Homo sapiens: one gene and its partners. The protein of the gene in region 2 interacts with the protein of the main gene of each other region in a biochemical or structural test. Each region holds a gene or a part of one and is shown on either strand. Other genes may lie near its edges. The genes, in order: SORT1, LPL and LRP2.

The links.
Region 1: the proteins of LPL (region 2) and SORT1 interact in a biophysical measurement, tested with the Homo sapiens proteins (one study listed by IntAct).
Region 3: the proteins of LPL (region 2) and LRP2 form a complex in vitro, tested with the Homo sapiens proteins (one study listed by BioGRID).

The regions. Positions count from the first base shown.
Region 1 is NC_000001.11:109,314,341-109,317,993, reverse strand, and holds part of SORT1 (sortilin isoform 1 preproprotein), read left to right. Parts: intron 1-24; coding exon 25-141; intron 142-1,035; coding exon 1,036-1,144; intron 1,145-3,215; coding exon 3,216-3,322; intron 3,323-3,609; coding exon 3,610-3,653.
Region 2 is NC_000008.11:19,949,127-19,952,779, reverse strand, and holds part of LPL (lipoprotein lipase precursor), read right to left. Parts: intron 1,012-3,653; coding exon 832-1,011; intron 1-831. UniProt on the Homo sapiens protein: Key enzyme in triglyceride metabolism.
Region 3 is NC_000002.12:169,352,447-169,356,099, reverse strand, and holds part of LRP2 (low-density lipoprotein receptor-related protein 2 precursor), read left to right. Parts: intron 1-3,653. UniProt on the Homo sapiens protein: Multiligand endocytic receptor. Acts together with CUBN to mediate endocytosis of high-density lipoproteins. Mediates receptor-mediated uptake of polybasic drugs such as aprotinin, aminoglycosides and polymyxin B.

The DNA of each region.
Region 1 (3,653 bases), on a different chromosome or scaffold from region 2:
TACTTTATTTGCTGACTCTTGCAGTGATTTTGGCTACTACCGTCCAGAAAATGACTCCAAGTGTGTGGAACAGCCAGAACTGAAGGGCCACGACCTGGAGTTTTGTCTGTACGGAAGAGAAGAACACCTAACAACAAATGGGTGAGGTGGCCTTTTCTCCCTTGTCACGATGGATGAGGTGTTCTTGTTCAGAGTGAAAGCTGCTTCTCTCCACACTGAGATCCAAGCCCTACTTTAGAGCACTATTTTTGGCGGGGTTGGGGAGGGGCAGGATATGAAGGCCTCCTTCAAGGGTCAACTACAGGAGGTGAGCCATGAGTGCTTGGTGTCAGAGGACTCAACCCCACCAACACCACGAGGCAGAGCAGGAGAACAAGCTCGGCCAGATCCTGCACCCCTGCCTCCCGCCCAACCACCCCCAGGAAGGGAGGAGAGGCGAGGGACCCACAGGCAGAATGACAGAAGCGTCCCATCCGCCATGAACGTCCATCGCTCGTCTGGCACAGTTTAGGCACAGCCAGGGAGAGCTCTGTCTGATAGGACTTTCTTTGGTGATGGAAGTGTTCTGTAATTTGCTGTGCCCAATATGATAGTCACTAGCCACACATAGCTGTGGACACTAGTGTAACCGAGGAACTGAAATTTTCGTTTTAATCAATTTTAAGTAGCCACCATATTGGACAGTGCTGCTCTAGACGGGCCTCATTACCTCGCTCCCCTGATAACTTCCCCTCTCCCATTTTGTACCACTTGTTAATGAGCTTTTTTGGGGTCAGATTTCTTTGGCACAGTCTCTTAGGTAGAAAGAACAGGCATGTTTCTGACAGCAGGGGACAGAGATGCTTAGTTTGCTTAAGGCCTGAAACTACACAAAATATCCCCCAAAACATCCCTGTGGACATTCCCCCCAGGCCTGAAACATGACGTAAGGATGGGAAGCTTTTCGGCAGCTTTTCAAATCTTGTTTCCAAGAAATAGGCAGGTACCCAGGAATACATCCTTATCTTCTGTTACCAAATCTTCTTTGCCTGGTAGGTACCGGAAAATTCCAGGGGACAAATGCCAGGGTGGGGTAAATCCAGTTCGAGAAGTAAAAGACTTGAAAAAGAAATGCACAAGCAACTTTTTGAGTCCGGAAAAACAGGTATGTTAAAATAGGTCTAGTTTTCAGGTACAAATGGGATTTTGTGTTCTGCTAAGAAAAATCAAAGTTAAAGCATCAAGAGTTTTGTTACTGATAAAAAGTGGTCAAACTACTTCTCTCAGGCTTCCCTTATACAGGAAGCTGTTAGCATGAAGGATGGGTCATGTAACCCAGTGATAAGCTCACCCTACTGAAAGCTCTTTTCTTATTGAGGGTTGGGGGATGATATTCTGTAAAGTTGTAAAATTCTTAAAATCATACAGTTGTGGAAATTTCTGAGGCTGAGAGTCATTTAGGAAAACAAAAAGGTTGTCTGTGGGCTGGGTACAGTGGCTCACACCTGTAATCCCAGCACTTTGGAAGTCCAAGGCAGGCAGATCACTGAGGTCAGGAGTTCAAGACCAGGCTGTCCAACATGGTGAAACCCTGTCTCTGCTAAAAATACAAAAATTAAAATTACAAAAATTAGCTGGGTGTGGTGGTTTACGCCTGTAGTCCCAGTTACTCGGGAGGCTGAGGTAGGAGAATCATGTGAACCTGGGAGGTGGAGGTTGCAGTGAGCCGAGATCGTGCTGCTACACTCCAACCTGGGCAACAGAGCAAGACTCCGTACCAAAAAAAAAAGGTTGTCTGTGAAGGGCCATGACCTGGAATTGTGCATGTGTGGAAGAGAAGAGCACTGGGCAATAGGTAGGGTGGATCTCTGACCAAGTCATGTTAAGTATGTTCAAAGTGAAAAATTGAGCTATGGTAATGGGCTGGTTTTGATTTAAATGAAGCAAGTTACCTGTCGGGCATGGTGGCTTACTCCTGTATAGTCCCAGCACTTTGGGAGGCTGAGGTGGGGAGATCAGTTGAGGCTATGAATTGGAGAGCAGCCTGGGCAACATGGAGAAACTCCATCTTTACAAAAAAAATACAAAAATTAGCCGGATGTGGTGGTGTGTGCCTGTAGTCCCAGCTACTCAGGAGGCTGAAGGGAGAGAATCACCTGAGCCTGGGAGGTCAAGGCTGCAGTGAGCCATGATCATATCACTGCACTCCAGCCTGGGTGACAGAGTGAGATCCTGTCTCAATTTAAAAAAAAAAAAAAAAAAAAAAGGTTATGAGGCTGCATCCAAATCTGTAGCACTGAACTACCTGTGGAACTGGAGATGTGTAAAGAGGAAACCTCTTGATAATGAAACACTAGACCAGCAGCATGACTTCAGATGCTCAACAGCAGGCCCGTTTCCCAATTCGTAATAGGAGAGGTCAAGCTGGATCACCTGCAGTCCCTCCTCTCTGCTGTTCTAAGGGATGAGGGACTGACAAGGGGTGGGATTAAGGAGATGATGGGAGAGGAGTGTGTGAGTGTGTGTATTGGTAAGGGGGCGAGTTCCTCCTTCTGTGCACCCTTGTCCTGGGCTCCTGGTGACTCTCCTCAGAGTGTTCGTGTGTGTGATTGCACAGGACTCCCACCCACAGGGACACAGCTTGTCCTAGAATCCAGCTCTGCCTCCTCTGGGATACATTGAAAACACACACTCCCTATTTCCCACCCAGAAGCAGGTAGGTCACATGCAAACAGTGATATGATAAGGCTTATTTATAATAATATATAAAAAATTAAGTAAACAAATAAATCTTGGTGTCATATAATGGCCTGCCTGGTTCTTCTGACACAGCTTCTTCCCAGATAATGGCCCTGTTCTAGAGTCATTCAGCCTACTGTTACAGTAGTCTCCCTTTCCTACTCCACCCTTAAGCCCCAAGACTTGTGAACAGTGGTAGTGTGAAGCAATCATACTTGATCTAGGCAGTTGCCCAGGCTTCCAGTGTAACTTTGACATTTAAACCACAGAATTTGAAGGTTCAAGGCAGTTGGAGCTAAGATGACTCTCTGCCAGCTATAATATTCTCCTGGTAACACTGAGATGGTTCATCTTGGGGGGTTGGAAAAGAGCCATCATTAAGCGCATCAGGACTGCAGATCATTCACAAAGAGATGAGGGGAATGAGTGGCTGCCTTGACCTCAGTCCTAGGATATGCATGCCTAAAACTTTTGTGTTTGTGTTTTAATTTCTCAAGAATTCCAAGTCAAATTCTGTTCCAATTATCCTGGCCATCGTGGGATTGATGCTGGTCACAGTCGTAGCAGGAGTGCTCATTGTGAAGAAATATGTCTGTGGGGGAAGGTAAGGAACACAGAAGTCAATCCAAGGTACTGAGTTCAAGCCAGAAGGCTGATCTAGGGCATATGGCTGAGTCTACTCTTGGCAAAAACTAGGTACTTGCAGTACTGTTCCTGAAAAATCAGGCCCAAATCTTCTCATGTCGTACATTTTTCATATGTCAACCATGGACTGTGCTTTCTGTGTCTGTGATGCGTTCCTGAGTGTATAAAACTGAGAAAGTCCACAGTCCTGTAAGAAGTGCACCCCTGCTGTGTACCACCGAGTGTTAAGGAGGTTTCTGTTCACAGGTTCCTGGTGCATCGATACTCTGTGCTGCAGCAGCATGCAGAGG
Region 2 (3,653 bases):
ATTCAGTGGAAGGGACCAGAGGTACATGGTCCAGCCCCTCATTTAACAGGTGAGAAGCCTGAGCCCCAGGGAGGTGATCCCGTTTGCCCATGTTCATTTGCCTGGTCAGCAAAAAAGACAAGAAAAGAACTTTTGTCTTTTATGATCAGTCTAATAAACACAGCTTATTTTTTACTTCCAATTACCTGGTTAAAATAATTTGCCTTGGTCAGAGTATCAGCTTCTTTCCAACCCCAAGATACTTTTCAGAGGTACTTCTCAAGGGATCGTGTGAAAAAGTGGGTCTCTTGCAGCTAAGTCAGAACTCCAGACCTCAGTTCCCTTCTATCCTATGCACCTTCCCTTCCAACATCTTCCTAGCTCAATTCCATCACTCTCCCAATGCTCAACAAAAACGTTCATCCTATTTCACACTAAAGAATAAGTACTATTAATATTTTCATGAAAGAGATTGGTATGTCAAGGTGAGGATAAGATGTCCACAGGCCAGCCAACTGGTAGGGAAGGGTCTGGCTGAACATGCCATCTTTCCTCTGTCCGAAAATCACAAGCTTTTTTCTGTTGGGCCCACTTAGTTATTGGTCTCAGCAGATCTATTCACTGTGAAAATATCAAACGATAGAGCAGGGCAGGACTATTTATTGGCCTTATAGTCTATTCTTATCAAAATGTTGCTTTTGGATATAAAATAATATCCACGCTGATTCTGAAGATTTGAATGCCCCCAGAAAATATTTAAATCTAAGAGAAAAGGAAGAAAGAACAGCCGGTTTTCTGGCTCCAGTCAAAAACACTGTTTTGGACACATAAGTCTCCTTCTCCCAGTCTTACCTCCATCCAGTTGATAAACCGGGCCACATCCTGTCCCACCAGTTTGGTGTAGCCCGCGGACACTGGGTAATGCTCCTGAGCCCGTGACAGCCAGTCCACCACAATGACATTGGAGTCTGGTTCTCTCTTGTACAGGGCGGCCACAAGTTTTGGCACCCAACTCTCATACATTCCTGTTACCTGAAGATGATGACACAAGCTTTCTTAAAATACCCACCTACCACTTGTCATAGATACATCAGCCCAATACACCTGCATGAAATGGAAAAAACAAACTTGATTGGAAACCCATTGGCACAGATAGAAAAATCAAATAACAGAACAGTGTTCAGAGACAGGTCTGTCCCTTCCAAGGCAGATCTAAGTAAGCCAGGAAGGCATTGAGTTGAGTTGAGGAACGGCAGATTGGGGTTCACCATGCTTCCCATTTAAAAAGTATATTTTAGACATTCAATAAAATTTTGATCATTTATACTATTAAAAGGAAAGATTGGTCTGAATGCAAAGTGGGTCTTTGAGGAAACTAGCAGGAGCACCTGGCTAGGAGCAGAACCCTGTTGAATTGGTCCAGTCCCACTCACCTTCGCCTCCCTTCAAGGTTGGGGTGTTGGGCACCCTTTGTAGTTGGCTTTCAAGATCAGGAGAGGTTGATGTCATTTCTTCAGAATGTAATGTTAATGTCTCCCTGTTTCAGCCAGGATCCCCTACTTCACAATGGGAACCCTGTACTTAAAGCCAGTGACATCCAAGCAAGTGGCAAAGCTCCAAGATAGCTGTGTCTAAGCAACCTGCTGGGATGTATCACATGCATGCTACATGCTAAGCATTCCTTTGGGTGTCTCATGACACAGCTGGAGAGCCTCCTCATTTCCCTTCGTCTGTGCCTGTGAGTCCCCAGGCAGCTTATTTCAGATAAGGCAAGAAAATCGGGTTTACTCTAGGCCTCTATCAGAAGTTTTTCTGTACTACCAGTGTTTCTCTTTTCTTTGTTCTTCCTTCCTTTCTTCCTCCCTCCCTTCCTTCCTTCCTTCATTCCTTCCTTCCTTCCTTCATTCCTTCCTTCCTTCCTCCCTCCCTCCTTCCCTTCCTCCTTCCCTTCCTTCCTTTCATTCCTTCCTTTCTTTCCCTCCTTTCTTTCCTTTCTTTTGGCAGAGTCTTACTGTCTCGCCCAGGCTGGAGTGCAGTGGCATGATCTCAGCTCAGTGCAACCTCCGCCTCCTTGGTTCAAGCGATTCTCCTGCCTCAGCCTCCTGAGTAGCTGGGACTACAAGCACATACCACCACACCTGGCTAATTTTTTTGTATTTTTTTAGTAGAGATTGGGTTTCCCCATGTTGGCCAGGTTGGTCTCAAACTCCTGACCTCCAGTGATCTGCCTGCCTTGGCCTCCCAGAGTGCTGGGATCACAGGCATGAGCCACCGCTCCCAGCCCAGTGTTTCCAAGTTAAGCAATCTAAAAAGGCTGGACATCCAACTTACTCCTACAGTGGCTGACATTTTTATTAACCGAACAATAGCTAATTGAATCCTTTCTTTCTGATCAACATAAAATACTGATGTAAGTAATCCCAAACAAAGCAAATGAAAAATCTAAGTACTCACCTTTCTCAACTCAAAAAGGGTCTTATTCTAAGTTCTTTCAATCTGAGTTTTTCTTCTGAGGTTCAATAATTACTATGTTTTAAATCTTTGGTTTTCAGACACGCAGCTGAACTGAAGCCCTCCCTGCTGCCTATACCAGGTGGGCCACCTGACCCTGCCAGTGAGTTCACTGAGATAATCAAGATCAGTGTGGCTGGCTTAGTTCTTGCACAGACCCAACTCAGTCCCACAGCCAGACAGCAGTCTCTGTGCTCAAGCACTCAAAATGTCAGGACACATGATGTGAAAGATACAGGTGGGCTTAGTGAGGCAGTAGGACCAATGATAGGAAGTGGCACCGTCTGTTGATATTGGGTTGGTCATGTCATCTTAGTATGAAAAAGAACCATTTTTTTCCCACAACTTCCCAAAGTATAAAATTCTCTCAGGGATAAGATTGAGATGACTGAGATACTCAATTTATTTCTGTTGTATAAATGCGTTTATTAAGCTCAGATTTTTTGAAAAATTTTAAAATCCAAGTTCTGTATATAACCAAAGGGCCTCTAAAGATTCCTTTTTCTGGGCCAGATGCAGTGGCTCTCGCCTGTCATCCCAACACTTTGGGAGGCCAAGGTGGGTAGATCACTTGAGGTCAGGAGTTCGAGACCAGCCTGGCCAACAGGGTGAAACCCTGCCTGTGCTGAAAATATAAAAATTGGCCGGGTGTGGTGGTGGGCGCCTGTAGTCCCAGCTACTCGGGAGGCTGAGGCAGGAGAATCTCTTATGCCCAGGTGGCGGAGGTTGCAGTGAGCCGAGATCGCGCCACTGCACTCCAGCCTGGGCAATAGAGTGAGCCTCCATCTCAAAAAAGAAAAAGATTCCTTTTTCCTACTTACACCTATTAAAATATTAAAGGATTTATGTTTAGGAATTTGAGATTTTATCACAAAATATTGAATTTACTATGTTAACATAGTAAATGGCTATATTTTGTTAAACATCTGTGTGAATTCTGTTAGTAGTAGTCTCATCTCTATAAAAATTGTAGCGATTGTCCTCTTCAGTCAATAACAAAGCCACTTAAATTATGTAGGAAAAGAAATGTGGACTAGATGAATGTTATTTTTAGTTAGTTCTCACTAGAAATTAGTATTATAATATTCACAAGCTCTGACATAATGGATAGATAATATATCTTTAACAAGCCATTTTACACAAATCCTTTTAAATAAATTACA
Region 3 (3,653 bases), on a different chromosome or scaffold from region 2:
GGCAACATAGTGAGACTCCATCTCTACAAAAAATACAAAAAATTAGCCAGGAATGGTGGTGTGCCCTTGTGGTCCCAGCTACTTGGGAGGCTGAGGTGAGATGATCGCTTGAGCCCAGGAGGTCGAGGCTACAGTGAGCTGTGATCATGCCACTGCACTCCAGCCTCAGCGACAGAGTGAGACCCTGTCTCAAAGAAAATAAATACATAGTTGAAAAGATACAGATAATTAGGTTGATCCATTTGAGATTGATTTTTTTTCCTATGCAGAAATAGTCAAATATTGGCAATTTCATTTGGTTCAACCTAATATAAAATGGAGGCTCAAACTATGTCAGGCCAATCTTGTCTTTTTTCCGTCTCCTGGCTCTGAGATGACTCCATTCTTAAACATGTTCTCCTTTGATGTAAAGCGGCTGTCAGTGGCTCTGGAGCCACCTCCTATCAGATCACATCCACTGGGAAAGAAAAAGAGTTTTTATCTTAGCTATTCCCAGCAAAAGTTTCAGTTGCATCTCAGGGTCTCTACTTAGGTCATAAACTCATTGGAGAACCAACCACTGAATCCCGGGTCATGATGTGTTCCCATGGCTTAGGCTTGGGCTGTATACTCAGTCTTTGAGATCATGTATGAAGGGGTGGAGTCCAGAGAGAAATGGGGGTAATTATTGGGAGAATGGTGAACAGAGGCTGGGATGCAAAAATAACAGGTGTTCAGTATACCTTATCAGATAAAATTGACTGACGATGTTATTTTCATTTTGTATGTGAAGACACACTTGAAAAAGCTACAGAAATTTCTCAAGAGCTGGCAGCCCTGGGGTAACTTACAGAATTGAAAGGAATAAAGTATTGGAAACATTAAGAAAAAAGACATGGTGATCTGTGCCCATGTGACCATGTTGCAACTTTAAGTTTAGAAGGAGAACAGGAGAAAGAAGGACTTTTAGAAGGTTTATTTGGATCCTAAAGTTTTCTTATTTGGAGCAGAGCTTTGTGATAGACAGGAAAGTTCTGGAAAATGAGCTGAGCGATCAGACTACAGGATCCCTTAAGTCTGGTGCAGTATTTCATTTTTCTGTGAATCTTAGGCTCCTACTCCTTTTCCAATTTACTTCACTCCAATGTTTATGTTCCTAAGAGTTTGTCTGTTTTCCAAGCACTAGTCCTTTGCTATAAGGATGGGGTAGAGAGAAAGAAGCTTAAAGAGTTTGCAGACAGGTTAAGATGCTTCTGTGGAGACAGAACACATCTTGGTGCACATCTGAGTGTCCTTAGCACTTCATCTATGGACTTCTTTCATAAATGGTAGAACACGTATCCATCACACCTTATTGGATTAATTCAGAAATGCCAGATATATGTACTCTTTGCTGATGGTTACTTTGTTGGTCTCTAATTTAAGTCTTATCTCTAATCACATTAGCTGAGAAAATGGAGACATTATCATTCTAAAAATAAGATGGTTAACTTTTATATTAGGACACTTCTGATTTAGGATAGCACTGAAATTCAGTGCAAAGAAATGTAAGTCTTTCCTAGATAATGACAGATTAGACAATTTGAAGTTTCACTTTTGGTCATTAGCCCTCAGGTCATGCCTGACCTCAAGGTTACTGGAAACAGTGAGAAATGAATGAAAGGAGGAAATGTAATTACCATTCTGTGCATTGAATAGTTGAGCCACTGTTACCATGGATACAATGGCGCATTTATTGTCCAGATCTTGAGATCCAAGTTTGTAAGCAATATCCAAGGTCTCCTTTAAATTTATGTACTATCAGCGAATAACACATGAAGATTCCTGGTAACTTTGAAAATAAGTCTTTCCTCACTGATCTACTGATTCACATTAAGTAAGAGCATGTGTACTTTTGAAGGTGTTGAGGAAACCTGAAAAAGACGAAAAGGAAAGTAGCTACACTTCTGTTATGCTGGACATTCTTGGATTCCTCTATAAAAATATTCTGTCTTATACTGTCAGTGATTTGCTTGTCACTTTGGGCCCAGTTCTTTGGTTTTTATGTCATTAACAAGGAGAAAATTTCCTGAGTAAAGGTTGAAAAAATCAAAATCGTTTATTTTTATTTTTTGAGACAAGGTCTTACTTTATCACCCAGGCCAGAGAGGGTCTCACTTTATCACTCAGGCTGGAGTGCATGGCTCCCTGCAGCCTCAACTTCCCAGGCTGAAGAGATCCTCTCCGCTTAACCCCACAAGAAGCTGGGACTACAGACACATACCAGCACTCACAGTTAATTTTTATATTTTTTGTAGAGATGAGGTTTCTCCATGTTGTTCAGGCTGGCCTCAAACCCCTGAGCTCAAGTGATCCTCCCGCCTCAGCTTCCCAAAGTGCTGGGATTATAGGCGCTAGCCACCATGCCCGGCTGAAATCATTTATTTTGTCAGGAAATTCTTAAAGTTGAATTTAAGAATGAAAGTATTTTATCAGAAATATGGCAATCCTACCCACATTTTAATCTCACTAGAAGGGGGGTGATACATGCTAGCATGTACTTCCACACTGGTTTAATTTTGATGTGGGGAAGGGTGTGGAGAATACTTTTTGTTGCAAGAAACAGAAAACCCAACTCAAAATGGCCTACACAATAAAGGGTATTTCTTGGCTTATGTGAGTAAAAAATACTGAGGCAGAGTGGGGTTCAGGCGAGGTGCAGTCAGGGCTCCAGTTCTCTTTCTTTGTGTTTTCCTTGACCCTACTCCCCCCTAAGTTTCACCTTTGTGTGCGGTCTGGCTTCCCATATGATTCTGATATGGCTGCCAGGGCAAATGGGGCTACGTGTTTCCTTGATCCTATCCAGGGGGAATCCAACTTTGAGAAGGTTTTAGTTATGTTCTCAAAAGTATTATTTCATCACAATAACTTACAGATTGTTAGAATTTCTAAGGACCCTAGACAAAGTCAGCTAGCTCCCCAAACTTGACATATCATCAAAATCACCTGAGGAACTTAAAAAAGTATAGAGATTCTTAAATCAAAACTCACCCTTACTAAAGCAGGGGTATGAAAATCTGTGTTTTTTAAAAATTTTATTTTATTTTACTTTCAGTTCTGGGATACATATGCAGAATGTGCAGGTTTGTTACATAGGTATACATGTGCCATGGTGGTTTGCTGTACCTATCAACCTTTCATCTAGGTTTTAAGGCTCACATGCATTAGGTATTTGTCCTAATGCTCTCCCTTCCCTTGGCCCCCACCCCCTGACAGGCCCCGGTGTGTGATGTTCCCCTCTCTGTGTGTGATGTTCCCCCCCCTGTGACCATGTGTTCTCATTGTTCATCTCCCACTTATGAGTGAGAACATGCGGTGTTTGGTTTTCTGTTCCTATGTTAGTTTGCTGAGAATGATGGCTTCCAGCGTCATTCATGTCCCTGCAAATGACATGAACTCATTCCTTTTTATGGCTGCATATTATTCCATGGTGCATATGTGCCACAACCAACCCAAATGCCCATCAGTGATAGACTAGATAAAGAAAATGTGGAAAATCTGTATTTTTAAAAGTTTCAAGGTGATTCTGAGGGCTGGACCAATTTTTGGGAACGTGTGATCTAGGTACCCTCTCATTTTTCAGTTTTGTAAACAGACTTAGAGGTGAACTGACTTACCACTGCAAATTTCTTCAG